Regions from separate parts of the Homo sapiens genome. Here region 1 is linked to region 2. The links come from fine-mapping of genetic effects on gene expression. A gene starts in region 2. The other region holds a variant in brackets. All regions are shown on one strand. Distances are from middle to middle. Region 1 overlaps CSTPP1 (centriolar satellite-associated tubulin polyglutamylase complex regulator 1). Region 2 holds the start of CSTPP1 (centriolar satellite-associated tubulin polyglutamylase complex regulator 1).

Region 1 (8,342 bases), 45 kb before region 2:
GCTCTACTTAGTAGCAAATCCTGCTGCTTCTCCTCCCTAGCTCCAGGGACTCAAAGTTAATGTGAAAGCTTTTTACGGGATAAATATTTTCAGAGCAGTAAAAATCAAAGTACTTTTGTCCTTCTAGAAAAAAAAAGCAGGAATTTTCAAGAAAATAGACTTTATACCAAAAATATAAAAAAGGAAAGAAAGAAATATATTGGACCATGCATGTTTAACATTAATCTACCAATCAGATATTTAGTTTCATATTACAAATAATAACAGCTACCATTTTTGAGTACTTGCACAATTTATTAAACAACAATGTGACAGATATAGTACTGTACTAATTGTTTCACATGCTTTATTCTATTTCTTCCAAATACAATCCTATAATAGTTATTCTTAGACTTCTATTTTTACAAGTGGGAGAACTGAGACTTACAAAATTAATTTACACAGCTAGTGGGAAGAGAAGCCAAGATTTGAACCAAGGTTTACCTGATACAAGAACCCATTCTCTTAACACGTTGCCTCACCATTAACACTTTATAATCAGTTATGGAAGTAAAAATTATCTTTATTTTACACAGTGCACAAAGGCAGGAATGTATGTTGATAGTAAAATCACCTGAGAGATATGGTCCATTTGGGTCCACGTGAATTTATGTGTGTGTATGTCTGTCTGTCCTGTCCCCCCACCTTCATACCAATCAGCATTTGTGTGAAGTTAGAACTTGTCCCTAAATTTGAAAGTTTCTTGAAAAGAACCATCCCATCCATTCCTAGTTCGCAAAGTAGAAATAGAAAGCCCTGGTGTTCTTTTTACGTGTGGGTGAAGGGAAGAAGCTAAGAAGAAAAGTTCCTCCCTGCAGAGAGTTTTACACCAGCCAACAGCCAAGTGCGAAGCTCTCCCTAATTGCCGTGCCCTGGTGGTTTCCTTCACCTGCAGCTCTTATCAGTCTAATGCTCCCTCTGTGGTTAAGGGTACCACCCAACACGGGAAAATCCTTAGTTTATCAAACTTCAATGAGACAGAAGTTCAAAGCTCTTGCCTGGCAATAAAACACGGAGAGTGTCATTTTACATTTTTTTTAATGCAAAGGAATAGGCTTTAATTTATGTGAATGATTAAAGAATAAAAAACAGCACACCTGCATCCCTGGAGGGCAAAGATATCTGGGCACCTTAGCTGCCCCTTGGAAAAGGAAAAGCATTTAAGACAGGCTTTTCCTCTTTGGCTTTGCCATGACTTCCACAAGATGAGGATTAAGTTTTCTAACCTGTACCTACGCTCTAGTGTCCTAAAATTCACACTAATGCCCAATTGTCCATGTCTTGCTCAGATAGCATCACTGTCTGAGATAAGCATTTAGAATTTCATCATGCTATACTGAAAAATCTAAGGCAAATGTAAGTAAACACTATATGATCCTTACTTGAACCTAGCAAGTGAAGGCAATTGTGGATCAGAAACTTCTTGGTTCTGTTGACTCACCCCATGTTGATCACGTAATCTCTTTATAACACTGTCAATCCTGCTATAAAATGGGTATGATTCTAAGAATATGTCTGATAATAAACTACTTCTTTAGAAAGCATTCAATATATGCAAAATGTAACATGTTAATGATTATATTATTATTGCTACATGCTGACTCTACAGATTAAAACAGCATAACAATTTTTACTGCAATGGTTAAGAATATGGGTTCTTGAGCCAACTGAACCTGGATATGATTTCTAGCTCTGTCATTTACTGACTGTGTAACTTCATATAAGTTACCTTATCTCTCTGCCCTTTTCTATAAAATTGGGCAATACTAGTACCTACCACAGAAGACTGTGGTGAAGATTAAATAAAATAATCTATGTAATCATCTTAGAATAGTGCTTGGCACATAGTAAGTGCTCAAACAATATTAGCCCCTTACCCCCTTATTGAAAGTTCTGCTCATCAAACCAAGATGTTTAGACTATCTTCAAGGATTCTTGGGCTATATAAAATCTATAACTATAAAAATATACATCATCATATACCCATTTCAGGTATGACCTTTAAACTTGTAGGAAGCATTCACTTATTAACTGCTAATTACTCAGCAGGCCCTAATTTATATGGGGAAAATCCAAAACTATTTATTTTATTCTCTTCCCAAGCATAAATACCATAAAAGCATTAGTTGTTTATTTCACAATTAAATGATAAGGGGTCCTATTTGGAAATTTTTGTTTGAGGGGTCTAGAATTTCCACCTTAACATTAGTTAGAGCACTCTTTTTTAAAAATTATTATTTAATACAGAGTCCCAATAATAGAATAACTAAGTCTCACTGGAAAAAATCTTCATATGAATTGCTATATATGATATTAACAGATGCACACATAGGCAATAGCAGTACAAGTGAAAAGCAGAGTATATACATATACTCAACTTTAAACCTGACTTTTTCCCCCCTTGCCAGAGTTTGATAAATAAATTGATAAATACATAGAGTTTTCCTTTCTTCCTTTTGAGACATATTTTGGTCTATGAGGCCTCTTGAGATTGAGATGCTGGATGGCACAAATAAATGTTTGCTGAACTAAATTAAAATGTTCTCTGAGATTTAAAAAAAAAAGTAAACCTGTTAATCAACAACCTGTCATGTAAACTGCTTAGAAGTTTCAAGTTCAATATCATTTATAAATCACTAACATAATCTAGTATTTGATCTTGTGAGGTACAAATAGATAGCTTAATGGTTTAAACAGTTAATAGACCTCTAAAATTTATTATTTACATCCTCCATCTTTACTGGTATATCCTGGTCCAAGGATATAGTGTGTTCTTGTGAAACATTTTGTCATCCATACGAGACCATCTTTGATCTTAGACCACACTAGACCAATTTCCCTTAACCAAAGGGAATGGGGAAATGAGGAAATCTAGCACATGTAATTCTTATACAACCCAACGAAGTAGGTAATAGCAATTTTTTTAAAAACTAGAGAGGTTAAGAAACCTGCCCAAAGTCTAAATAAATGGCAGAGCTTGGATTCAAACTTAGATTTGACTCCAAAGCCCGTATTCTTCCATTCACCCCACTACCTCTCAAAACCAAAAATGAAAGCAAAACAAGAAAAATCCAAAAACCTACAAAGTGCCCCATCTTACGTTGTATTATCTAGAAATTGCTGGCTCTTCCCTGTTAATACTTTATAGTATTAAGAAGCTTAAATTGGTAAATCAAAGTACTGGTATGATCTTTAAATTTTTAAAAATGTTTATTTCTAGTTAAACACACAATAATTTTTAAAGGTTCAAACAATACAGATAAAGCTAAAGACTAATTCCAGTTCCCATAGATAACAACTATTATCAGTTTGGGGTACATATTTTCAAAAATACAGAAATATAGTTTGTGAGCTTGTTCTGTTTTCATGTTTTAAGTTGTTTTTAAGTGTCTGATATATCCTTTCTGCATCTTTTTTTTTTTTAATCAACAATGTCTGGAGATCTTTTATAAAACAATATGGAACCTACTTACCTTTTTGATAGTTCCCAATGGTAAATATTTCCCTACTGATAAACATTTAGGTTGTTTCCATGTTTTCACTATAATAAACTGGGCTGTGTTGAACATTCTTGTACGTGTTTCCTTGTATATATGTGCAAGAGTTTTTCTAAGGTAGATTCCTCAAGATGGAATTGGCATTTCATAGGATGCACAGGATATCTTCATGTTTACCAGAGATAGACAATTGCTTTTACAAATTAGTTATTCCAATTTACACACCACCAGCTGTATGAGTATCTATTTTCACTATCCTTGGCCTAATGCTTTTTAATTTTGCCGATTTAATAGTTAGAAAATAGCTTTTCTCTGTTGTTTTAATTTTACTTTTCTTGATTACAAATAAAGTTAAGCACATTTTCATGTTTATTTGTATTTCTTATCCTTTGCCAATTTTCTTCTCTGGTTGTCTTTTTTTCTTCTTCTTGACTTGTAGATAATTCTATACATGTCACAAATACATACATCTACTTCATGGTCTTCTTTTAACTTGTCTGTGGTATCTTTCATTTTACAGAAGTTTTAAGTGTTGATACAGTCAAAATAATGTATCTGTGGCTTTTTTTTGGTGTGCTTTGTGTCCTATTCAAAAAGGCCTTCTCTACTCCAAGTGTATAAGCCTATTATCCTATATTCCAGTCTGTACTGCATGATACTGCCACCTTTAAAGAGCCATGCAGTATGACATGTATCAAACAGAACTTTCTGAGAACAAATTTGCAAATTAAGGAATGACCTTTTATTTTATAATTGTTAATTATAAAACAGACAAAAGCAATACATTGCATCTATGCATCCAAACCACTAAAGTCCTGCTATACGGCTA[G/C]TCAAACTCAAATACTAAAAGACACGCCAGAGGCAAACAAAGCATTACACATATGCTAACATCACCTGTGACAACCAGAAAACAAGAGGTGTCTAAAGATCTTTATGTTAAGTAGAGGATGAAAAACTAAAGTCTATTTCCCTCAACCAAAAGGGGTATTGTACTGGTTAATAGCTGTGAAAAGCTGAGTGCCTTGACACTCAAAACAGTCTCTGGTCAACCATTAATCCTCCCCTCTTCCCTTCTCTTTCCTAAAACTGGTGGGTTTTTTTGTTTTTTTGTTTGTTTGTTTGTTTTATATATAGTTTTGGGATGTCAATTAAGGGTAAGTGCTTAAATCCTACTGCCTCAGTATTTCCAGCCTAAATCTCATAATAATACAGCATTTGTAGGTTGGAGTCCTGCAATTTCAAGTGCCAGAAACTACAGAATCTTTTTTATTTTAAGTCAGAGTCTCGCTGTTGTCACCCAGGCTGGAGTGTAGTGGCGTGATCGCGGCTCACTGCAACCTCCACCTCCAGGGTTCAAGCGATTCTCCTGCCTCAGCCTCCTGAGTAGGTGGGATTACAGGCGCCCGCCACCATGCTCAGCTAATTTTTGTACTTTTAGTAGAGACAGGGTTTCACCATGTTGGCCAGGCTGGTCTCAAACTCTTGACCTCAGGTGATCCGCCTGCCTTGGCCTCCCAAAGTGCTGCGATTACAGGCATAAGCCACCGCGTCCTTTTTTTTTTTAAGGAGATTTTCATAGTTCAAACTTAAAGCACTCAGCTAGCTGACCATAACAAAATGTACTTCCTGAACACCAGAGAAATCTAAAGTAGCACTTAAGTTTCCCACAGTTACAATCTAAGGGACATATGAAGAACCCAAGTAATATTTGTCATGGCAATAACTTTGCAAAAATAGTTACTAATAAAGCAGTATAGTTATCAAGTCAACGCCATAAACATTCACATAACTATTTTCCAGAAAGTATCATGGGTAAAAAAAAAATCCTGTAAATTGCTAAACATGTAGTAAATCATATGCCACTCATGTTTTCAAACAGGGAAGTAATAAAATTACAAGGTGAAAATTAATTGTGCTATAGCACGAGTTGTAGTCTTGCAGCCGGGCATGGTGATGCATGCCTATGGTCCCAGTTACTCAGGAGGCTGAGGCAGGATGATCCCTTGAGCCCAGGAGTTCAAGACCAACATAGTAGGACTCCTGTCTCTTTAAAAAAAAGAAAAAGTATAGCCTTTGGGGGCAAACCATGTATTTATCAATTATCATTAAATTTACAGATTAATATTAATTGGTAATATGCAATTTAACTATGAATATACAGAATAGTGATATTAATGCAATAAGATACTAATACAACAGCTTAATCATTTGCTTGGCATTTTACATTAAAAATATTACATAAAAATTAGTTGGCATTCACAACTGAACTAACAGTAACAGGATCTCATTTTTTCTAATGACAAAAAGATACAGAAAAGTTCTAATTTAAAGTAACTGAAAACTCACGGGCTTAGAATTCCCTGTCCTCTCTCTTGTGGTTGATGTGGCTCTGCACGAAGGTGGGGATTCTTTTTCAAATAAGAGTCTCACATGTGAAATCCCCACTAAGAACTATCTCCACATACTGTTTATGGGATATAGCTGTAATAGTGCTCAATAATCCCTTTGAGTTTCTATTTTTGTTATGAAAGTAAAGGATGCTATTGTAGATATTTATAGATACAAAAAGGCCTAGGCCAAAGTGCACAAAAACCGTATGGGGCAAATGGTTGGAACAACATAGACTAGACAGAGAGGCCCCAGTTTAGTCTACACAGAAAACTCATAACACTTAACATATCATCTAAATTAATGGTATAAAAACACCACCAAAGTACCCTATAAAAACATACTTTGGATCTGTTTTACTAGAACAACATAATTTTTGACTCATCACTTTTAGGAATGTTGCAATGTTCAGTCCTACCTTTTCTGCCAGGCCCAACTCAAATGCCACCTTCTTTGTGAACCTTTCCCTGATTCTGTCCCAGCCAGAAGTGATCTTCCCTTTTCCCAAACTCCCTAAACATCTATTTTAAATATTTCCAGTGGCACTTTCTACCTTGATACACAGTTATTTCTGTTATGCGTATGTTATCTTCTTTGTTGGATGTCCTGATCCTTAAAGATAGGCACCATGACTCATTTATCTTTTATTTCCTTTAACACTCAGGACCATTCAGTGTCTTTCACATGGTAGACATTCAAATATTTACTTAATGAACATACAAACTGTATCCACTATTTATAAACTGTGATGCTGTTCTTTATTCAACTCAACCACTTTAGGACTGTGCCTCCCAGGTGGGAAACGCTAAATATCAAAACACATTCTATTACAATGTTAGTGTTCTTACTGGAAGCCACTTTTGTCCTGTTCTCAACTACTCTTTCTGTTGCCTTTTTACTACTGTTCCTTCTCTCTATTCCAATGAGAAGGCACTTGTTCCTTCTATTGTTACTAAGAGCCTCATTATGTTCAAGGTAAAGCGAAAAAATGCATTCGATGCAATTACCAGTTCCTCACAAATTTGGGGGCTACTTGTCATTTCAACATCCAGGACTTGAATAAAAGAAAGTCCAAATTCTTTTTACTCCTAATAACTATTTTCTTTTTTTCTTTTTAGACAAAATGGAAGCACACAGCACAGGAAGCAGTCCTCAGTAAGCCACCGTTCATAAACAGCTTTGCTGAAAGCCTAACAAAGGTTCTGTTGTGCTCTTGCATGGCAGGGCCAGTAAGCAGCAGGAGCAGATGAACTCTTTAAGAAACAAAGGTTCTGTCTTCATGCAAATGTTTGCATTAATAAAAAATAAAGAAAAAGATATAGAAAATGCAGGCTAGCTGGACATAATAGGTCTCTAAATGGGAGGTTTTTCACATTTTTCAGGCGGAGTCAGCAGGTCTTTTAAAAACTTTGTCATTCTAAACATTTCACAGACATCACAAGAGAGACATGCAAATAACAGAAGCAAATCAAAAGACATCCCGCTGCTGTGCTGGCGCCTCCCTCATCCATTCCTGGTTTGTCATTTTCTGTTAACCCTAGTGCTGGCTGCTGTTTTGTTGAGGAATGGAGTCCCTAGCCCATGTAGCAGTACATGTCTAGCCAGCTGGCCCCAGCACTGATAACATTACAATGCAAGCCATGTACTACCACTCAGGGACACGTGCTGCCAGGCAACAAGTGCAATGTGTGATTTTTACACACTCCGCTTGCAAATCTGCATGGGAAAGAGCTTCTAAACTAACCACTTAATAAGATATGGTCTTCTTGAGTGTGAGCATCACTGAGTAGTTCAGAAGATGAACTTGCTGAGGACCAGTCCTTCAAAGTGAAATACGATTGACCCTTGAACAATACGGATTTCAATAGCTTGGGTCCACTTAAAAGTGAGGGTTTTTTCCAACCAAATGTAGGTCGAAACTTCAGTATTCTCAGGAAGCAAAACACACGTATAGGGAGGGTCAACTTCTCGTAGATTCGGGTTCCACAGGGCCAACTGCAGGACTTGAGTATGCACAGATTTTGGTATACTCAGAGAGCCCTGGAACTAACCCCCTGCATATACTCATGGATGACTGCATACAATAAGGGCCTTAAAGTAAATACAGAAACTTAAAAAACTCATGTGGGGAAAGGGTTACCAAATACCTATTCTGTGCCAAGCACTGTACTATGTACTCAACTTACATTGTCTCTAATTTTCACAACCACCATTTAAGGTACTTTTATCCTTATTTTATAGCAGAGGAAATTGAAGCTTAGGGAGGTTCTGTAACATGCCCAAGGTGCAGCTAATAATAGCAAGCCAAAACCCAAAACTGTACAGCAAATTCCCCACGATTCTATACATTTCTCTCATTGTGTGTGTGTGTGTACTGTGTGTGTGTGTGTGTGTGTGTGTGTGTGACTGAAACCTAGC
Region 2 (8,342 bases):
AGTTCAAAAGCAGCCTGGGCAACATGGAGAAACCCTATCTCTACCCAAAATACAAAAACTTAGCCAGGTGTGGTGGCTCGTGCCTGCAGTTCCAGCTACTTGAGAGGCTGGGGCAGGAGAATGGCTTGAACCCAGGAAGTGGAGGTTGCAGTGAGCCGAGATGGTGCCACTGCACTCCAGCCTGGGTGACAGAGTGAGACTCTGTCTCAAGAAAGAAAGAAAAGAAAAAACAAAAGAAACGGAAATTACTTCAAGATGTATTAAATGAAAAAGTATGCACTGTATACTCCTTTATGTATATAATAAACTCTGGAAAGATACACAGGAAAACAATAATAGTGGTTACTTTTGGGAGGCTGAGGATGGATGGAAACTGGGCAGATGGAGGCAAAGGGGTAGGCTTTTCACTAAAAACATCTACCTATCTATCTATCTATCTATCTATCTATCTATCTATCTATCTATGCATTTTAGAGGCAGGGTCTCACTCTATCATCCAGTCTGGTCTTGAACTCCTGACCTCAAGCAATCCTCCTACGTCAGCCTCCCAAAGTATTGGGATTACAGGCATGAGCCACCATGCCAGGCCTAAAAAATACTTTGAATCAAGTTTCCATATTACCAACCTTAAAAAATATTTTAAAATTAATTTTTAAAATAAGTTAAACAAAATGTAAACCAGAATTGTTTTTCATTTAAAAAGATGTTGGCTGGGCGCGGTGGCTCACGCCTGTAATCCAAGCAGTTTGGGAGGCCGAGGTGGGTGGATCACCTGAGGTCAGGAGTTTGAGACCAGCCTGACCAACATGGAGAAACCCATCTCTACTAAAAATACAAAATTAGCCAGGCGTGGTGGCGCATGCCTGTAATCCCAGGTACTAGGGAGGCTGAGGCAGGAGAATCACTTGAACCCAGGAGGCGGAGGTTGGGGTGAGCCCAGATCGCATCATTGCACTCCAGCCTAGGCAACAAGAGTGAAACTCCATCTCAAAAAAAAAAAAAAAAAAAAAAAAAGATGTAAGCCAGGTGCAGTGACTCACACCTGTAATCTCAGTACTTTGGAAGGCCACAGTAAGAGGCTTGCTTGAGCCCTGGAGTTCAAGACCAACCTGGACAACATAGTGAGACTCTTTCTCTACAAAAAATTAAAAAATTAACCAGGGATGGTGGCATGTGCCTGTAGTCCCAGCTACTTGGAAGGCTGAGGTAGCAGGATCACTTGAGCCCGGAGGTTGAGGCTGCAGTGAGCCGTGATAGTGCCACTGCACTCCAGCCTGAGTGACAGTGCCAGACATTGTCTCAAAAAAAAAAAAAAAGAAGAAGAAAAAAAAAAAAGATGTGCATGGTACATCCATACAATGGAATATTATTCAGAAATAAAAAGAAATGAGTTATCATGCCACAGAAAGACATGGAGGAAACTTAAATGCTTACTGCTAAGTTAAAGAAGCCCATCTGAAAAATTTACACACTGTATGACTCCAACTACATGATATTCTGGAAAAGGCAAAACTTTAGAGACCATAAGATCAGTGGTTGGCAAGGGCTGCAGGGGGAGGGAGAAGGATCAATAGGTGGAGCACAGGGGATTTTTCAGGACAGTGAAACTATTCTGTATGATAATGGAATGGTGAATACATGACATGCATTTATCAAAACCCACAGAACTGAACAACACAAAGAACCCTAATGTAAACTATGGACTTTAGTTAATAATATGTATCTATAATAATATATCTATATAATAATAATAATATATAATATATTATTATATATTATAAATATATATGTTTATCCATTGTAACAAATGTACCACACTAATGCAAGATGTAAATAATAGCGGAAACTGTGAGTGAGGGAGACCCAAGGTATATGGGAACTCGCCGTACTATCTGCTCAATTTTCTGTAAACTTAAAACTTCTCGCCATGTGCAGTGGCTCACGCCTGTAATCCCAACACTTTGGGAGGCCGAGGTGGGCGGATCACCTGAGGTCAGGAGTTTGAGACCAGCCTGACCAACATGGTGAAACCCCGTCTCTACTAAAAATATAAAATTAACCTGGCGTGGTGGCGCATGCCTGTAATCTCAACTACTCGGGAGGCTGAGGCAGGAGAATCGCTTGAATCCGGGAGGCAGAGGTTGCAGTGTACTCCAGCCTGGGCAACAGGAGAGAAACTCTGTCTCAAAAAACAAAACAAAACAAAACAAAACGTCTTTAAAAAAATAAAAGTCTATGAATTATTTAAAATGTGTATTGTGGCCGGGCGCGGTGGCTCACGCCTGTAATCCAAGCACTTTTGGAGGCTGAGGCGGGCAGATCACGAGGTCAGGAGATCGAGACCATCCTGGTTAACACGGTGAAACCCCGTCTCTATTAAGTATACAAAAAAGTAGCCGGGCGAGGTGGCGGGCGCCTGTAGTCCCAGCTACCCGGGAGGCGGAGCTTGCAGTGAGCCAAGATCGCGCCACTGCACTCCAGCCCGGGCGACAGAGCTAGACTCCGTCTCAAAAATAAAATAAAATAAAATGTGTATTGTGTGCATATGTGTGTGTGTGTACATATCTATGCGTGTGTGTGCCTTTTTTCATTCATTAAATGCCTTATACACTAAAGATGCTCAACAAAGTACTACATATACAGTCTTAGCTCAAGAGCCAAGTCAATATCTCAAGTTCTGTTGGAGTGGGCAAATCCGGTTCTGATCCTAGCGCTACCATTTTCTAGCTGTGTGGCCTAACTTAACGCAAGTTACCTCTTCAGCCCCAGTTTCTCCACCTGCAAAACTGGAAGAAAACACGGTAATTCCTCCTAGGGCTGTTGAGAAATTCAAATGAAGAATGATGCATGAAAAATGCTTAGCACAGTGCCTAATGAAAAAGAAAAGCTCGAAATGTTCGCTGACTGATTTGGCACTTGAGGTTCCAAGGTTATTCTTACTCCACTACCAGCATATCAATAATACCCCAACAGGGCCCCAAATCCTCAACGCCAACCTGACCCATTTGAACACAATCCACATTGCCTGAGTTCCAGCCCCTACACTTCAAACATTCTTTACTTCCCAGGTGCTTTTTTCCTTCCTGCTCGGCCTTACAGGCTCAGGCCCTGGAACCCCCGCCTCTCCGCCCCTCCCCATACCACCCGGACCCGATCCCACTCAGACCCCGCCCCCGCCTCCTCCCAGACCCTGGCCTAATTCGTCTGCACGTCTTTCCCTCCCCAAAGTTAAAGGGGGTTCCTACCCAGATACTCGTAGTCCGGTAGGGCTAGGCGCTCCGGACTCAGCATCCTTTGACCGGGGTGGCTTCAAAGCTCCAGCTCTCCGGCTTCCGGAACCCAGGTTGCCGTCTCTCTCCGTTGCCATGGCACCCACGCGGCGGAAGGGGGACGGGAGCTGGAGGAGGTGTCACACAAACAGTCTCCGTGTCGCAAAGTGGAGCTGGCCACTCAAGTTCCGGGGGCAGTCGCTTCACGATGGTCCAGGTTTCTTTGGACTCCCATTCTTGAAGACTTGGTTTTAGAGGAATCTGAGATGAAGAATTCTTTTGAATCCGTTATGTTTCCCAGTGTCGAAGAATTACTGTCAGCCGCCCATATACGCAGTTTCTGAATTTCATAACTATCCCTGCTTTTATACACTGTTTATCCTAACTCAGTAATAGCCCCCGCCCTTTGGCCCCCATAAACACTTAGTATCCCATTAGCTATTTTTATCTCTTTGGTATTTACTATCTTAAATTGCTACAAAGTGCTTACGTATGCATATACCCTGGATGCTTCTAGAGGTCAGAGATGTGTCTTTTCTGCCTATGACGGCTGGACACACAAAAGGTACTCATTAAGTCCTCTGAACTAATTGCCATTTCTTCTCAATTCTCACTCAGTCGCCCAGGCTGGAGTGCAGTAGCGTGATCTCGGTTCATTGCAACCAGCGCCTCCCGGGTTCAAGCGATTCTCCTGCCTCAGCCTCCCAAGTAGCTGGGATTACAGGCGCCCGCCACTCCGCCTGGCTAATTTTTTGTGTTTTTAGTAGAGATGGGGTTTCACCATGTTGGCGAGGCTGGTCTGCAAACTCTTGACCTCAGGTGATCCGCCGACCTCAGGTGATCCGCCTGCCTCAGGCCTCCCAAAGTGCTGGGATTACAGGCGTGAGCCACCGCGCCCAGGCTCAATTCCTTTTTATCTTTGGTTCTTCTTTCTATTCCTAGCCCTTACTATTTGGTACCTTTCCCAGGTGTCTTTCCTTTTTCCTACCAAGACATTGCTCTTCTTGAGGGAGAGGGGCTGCAGAAACGAGGACACCAGTTAGATTTTTTTCCCTATATGCCCAATTGCTCACTTCTTCTTTAAGAGAATATTCACTGGTTTTCAAGTTCCTAAATATTTCTTTTCGCCCCTCTCCACTCCTGACAACAGGTCAGAGATCTGTAGCACTAGACACAGTTCAGACATAGCAGAAAAAGCCACTCTGTCCTCACTTTTTTAGTGCCCTCCCCCTCCAACAAGGTGAGGTTTGTGAAAAAGAGACAAAGAAAACAAAATCAAGCTATCAAAGGAATGACTGGGAAACCAGTAGACCACCTACACTGGGAGGAAAAGGAAAGAGGAGGTTCTTCTCTTTGTGTTCCGAGTGGCCTATTCTTAGCGTCCTCCAGTAAGGAGCCTCAAACCTCCTAATTCTTGCTTTCCCTTAAAATTGTATATGTGTCTCAATTCTAGGCTCCTGTGAGTCACTCTAAGTTTGGATGTGGTGAGGTTAAAAGGACAGAGCCAAAGTAGGAGCAGGGCTTAGTGTCTTGAGGCAAATTTACTAATTTGGTATTTGGTGTGAAGTCCAGCAAATCTGATTTTTTTTTAATTGCCTTCTTATCTGCTTCCCCCATCTAGCTTGAGGTTATGGGAGGTTCATATGTTCCATAACTGTGGCTTTTTACTATTTTATTAATAAGGTAATACCATAGTAATTATTAAGTGATAATTTTACTTTATTCCCAAGCAACTTGTAGCTATTTGCAAATAATCTTATTTGTCCTCATAAAAACTTTCTGCTGAGGTGGGCGGATCACGAGTTCAGGAGTTCGAGACCAGCCTGGCCAATATGGAGAAACCCCATCTCTACTAAAAATACAAAAATTAGCCAGGCGTGGTGGCGCACGCCTGTAATCCCAGCTACTCAGGAGGCTGAGGCAGAAGAATCACTTGAACCGGGGAGGCAGAAGTTGCAGTGAGCCAAGATCGCACCACTGCACTCCAGCCTGGGCGACACAGCGAGACTCCGTCTCAAAAAAAAAAAAAAAAAAAAAAAAAAAACCTTTCTAAGGCACTTTTCCATTTTCTAACTAGGGAAACTGAGGCACAAGTCACAACAGTGACTTGTCTAGTGACTTGTCTAGCATCATGCAGCCACATAGTGGTAGAGCTACAACTGGATCTCAGCTATCCCAACATCCAGGCCAGTGGTCTGACCACTAAACCACACAGTCTCTTTTTTTAGGGTTTGTTGACCTGGCTTTTATTTATTTATTTTTCCTTTTGCTCTGCCCTGCTAGCAACTGGAAGCTCCCAGATAGAAGAAGATAATGTTGAGTCCAGGCTGAACATTTGACATCGTCTTATTTGTGGAGCATTATCCTGGGACTTGGCGGGTGCTGGCTGCTGGGGTCTGTGTGGTGGAGCTGGGAACCAGCCCCAAGAATATAGCTTTGTTTGGGCATTAACCCATTTGTGGTTATAATAATGATAAGTTTCAGCACCAGTGGCGCCCGACTGTTAATGACTCAAAGAAGGCTAAATAAGAACAAGATGTCATCTCTGGAGCAATTTGTAGGTTTTTCCTACAGTTCCATCCCTTCCATAAAAATCCGAAGGACCCCTGTATTCAAAGTCAGTCTTCCACTCTGAATGTCCTGAACAGTCTATTGAGGAGGAGGACTTAGAAAAGTAGGAGGTTGCTAGAGTAAGGCTTCACAAAAATTTGAAGTTTCACCGAAATAACAGGTGGCCTTACTGGTAGTGGAATTACTGACTGTTTACATTTTTCTTCTTTATATTTTTCTATAGTCTTAAACTTTCTATAATAGGCATGTATTATAACCTGAAAACAAATAATAAATGAGTGGCCTGAAAATCTTTAAAATTTTTTAAGCAGATGTGATGACCTTCCAGACAGTGTTTGTTTTTCCCAAAAAGAAGCCACTGCTAGATTTCTCTTCTGTCACAGATTACATGATAATAGATTTTTGAAACACATTGGTTATTGGTGAAATTTTTCAATGAAACATACACTACATCAGTCTTAAGAAGAGTAGAAATATATAAGAGTTGTTAAAATTAAGTGTATTTTTTGTGACTTGAATGTGAAAGAAAGAAAAAAAATGTCAGCCTTTGATTTAAATTGACTTTTCAGGTTCTTAACTTATCATAATATATTTCTTAAAAATTTACCAAAAAAAAAAATCACCGAGGTAAATCGGTAAGTCAGAAGACAACTCCATAATCCTGAAAAGAGGCAAGTGATAAGATATTGATGATAAATAGAGCATCGGATGTTAAAGGCAGTACTACAGCATGACGACTGTAAACATCAAATTCAGAACAATAAGAAAAAAACAAGAGAGAGAATATATTGAGATGGTTTTTGTTTTTGTTTGTTTGTTTTTTGAGACAGAGGCTCACTCCATCATCCAGAAAGGAGTGGAATGGTGCAATCTCTGCTTACTGCAACCTCTGTGTCCCAGGTTCAAGCCATTCTCCTGCCTCAGCCTCCCGAGTAGTTGGGACTACAGGTGTGTGCCACCACACCCGGCTAATTTTTGTATTTTCAGTAGAGACAGGGTTTCGCCATGTTGACCAGGCTGGTCTCGAACCCCTGACTTCAAGTGATCCACCCGCCTCAGTCTCCCAAAGTGCTGGGATTACAGGTGTGAGCCACTGCACCTTTTGTTTTTTGTTTGTTTGTTTGTTTTGTTTTTTAGTATATATAAGGTCTCCCTTTGTCACCCAGGCTGGAGTGCAATGGCACAATCACAACTCACTGTAGCCTGGAATTCTTGGGCTCAAGTAATCCTCCCACCTCAGCCTCCTGAGTAGCTGGGATCACTGGTGCATGCCACCACATCCAGATAATATTTTTAATTTTGTAGAGACAAGGTCTTGCTAGGTAGCCCAGGCTGGTTTCGAATTCCTGAGCTCAAGCAATCCTCCTGCCTCAGTCTCCCAAAGTGCATGAGCCACTGCACCCAGCTGAGACATCAATTTATCAGATTATAATTTCTGATTTTATAATGAGAAAATTAATAGACATCTCTGGCTCTGCAGAAGACCTATTAAGAGATTGATAGGGAAGAAAATCCTCCCTATAATTGAAGACTATAGAAAAGCAAACGGTGAATACACTAAACAGTTTTAAACTTCAAGGAAGCAATAAGGAAAGAATAAATGCAGGCTGAATTATTGCTATAAAACAGGTTCAAGAAACTAGGACAAGCTTTTATCAACTGATCAAGCAGAAAAGATGCTAAAGGCAAAGTAGCTACTAAGAAATGCAGGTCATGAAATTCATGCTGAGCTACTAGGCTCTGCATGAAAGGCTTATCTTCCACAAGAGCACAGCAGAAACTAAGTGTGATGCCACTGTCTGGGATTCATATGTTTCAATTAAAAATGCTATTTATAGAAGGTAATTTTGTACTGCCACAAGCCAATGGACCAGAGCTTTGGAGTAATTTGTAAAGAAAAGAAATGTTCACAAACTCTTGGGCAGTTAAGAATAACTAATGCATTGTAAGAAACTAGTTAAGGGGATATGGCGTAAATTGAACTGAAGTTCAAAGGTAATTATGGACTGTACTTTCTTGTTATTCTATGTTTTCAAATGCTGCAATAAGAGTTGCAAATTACACATTCATATAGTTTGAAAGGGGGGATGATTTACTGATTCTTGGTAGCCCACAAAAATTAGTTATGCCTTCTTCTGTCCTAGACTATGCAGTTTTGTTTTGTTTTGTTTTGTTTTGTTTTGTTTTGTTTTTTTGAGACAGAGACTCGCTCTTTCACCCAGGCTGGACTGCAGTGGCGTGATCTCGGCTCACTGCAACCTCCACCTCCCGGGTTCAAGAGATTTTCCTGCCTCAGCCTCCCAAGTAGCTGGGATTACAGGCATGCGCACTGCACCTGGCTGATTTTGTATTTTTAGTAGAGACGGGGTTTCTCCATTTTGGTCAGGCTGCTCTCGAACTCCTGACCTCAGGTGATCCACCCGCCTCAGCCTCCTAAAGTGCTGGGATTACAGGCGTGAGCCACCGCGCCCAGCTAGTATGCACTTTTATAACCATTTATGT

The links. PIP is the estimated chance that this variant, and not a neighbour inherited with it, causes the effect.
Region 1: its variant is fine-mapped to the expression of CSTPP1 in whole blood (INTERVAL, PIP above 0.99).

The regions. Positions count from the first base shown.
Region 1 is chr11:46,976,381-46,984,722 of GRCh38, reverse strand. The region is part of intron 1 of CSTPP1 (centriolar satellite-associated tubulin polyglutamylase complex regulator 1); the gene reads right to left. Among named protein-coding and RNA genes, the nearest start is that of CSTPP1, 44 kb to the right of the region's middle. The variant G/C (reference allele first, on the strand shown) is at 4,366.
Region 2 is chr11:46,931,755-46,940,096 of GRCh38, reverse strand. CSTPP1 (centriolar satellite-associated tubulin polyglutamylase complex regulator 1) reads right to left here and starts at 3,336. Exons shown (of 9, transcript NM_024113.5): 1 at 3,246-3,336. The coding sequence starts at 3,291. RefSeq lists an enhancer at 3,269-3,478.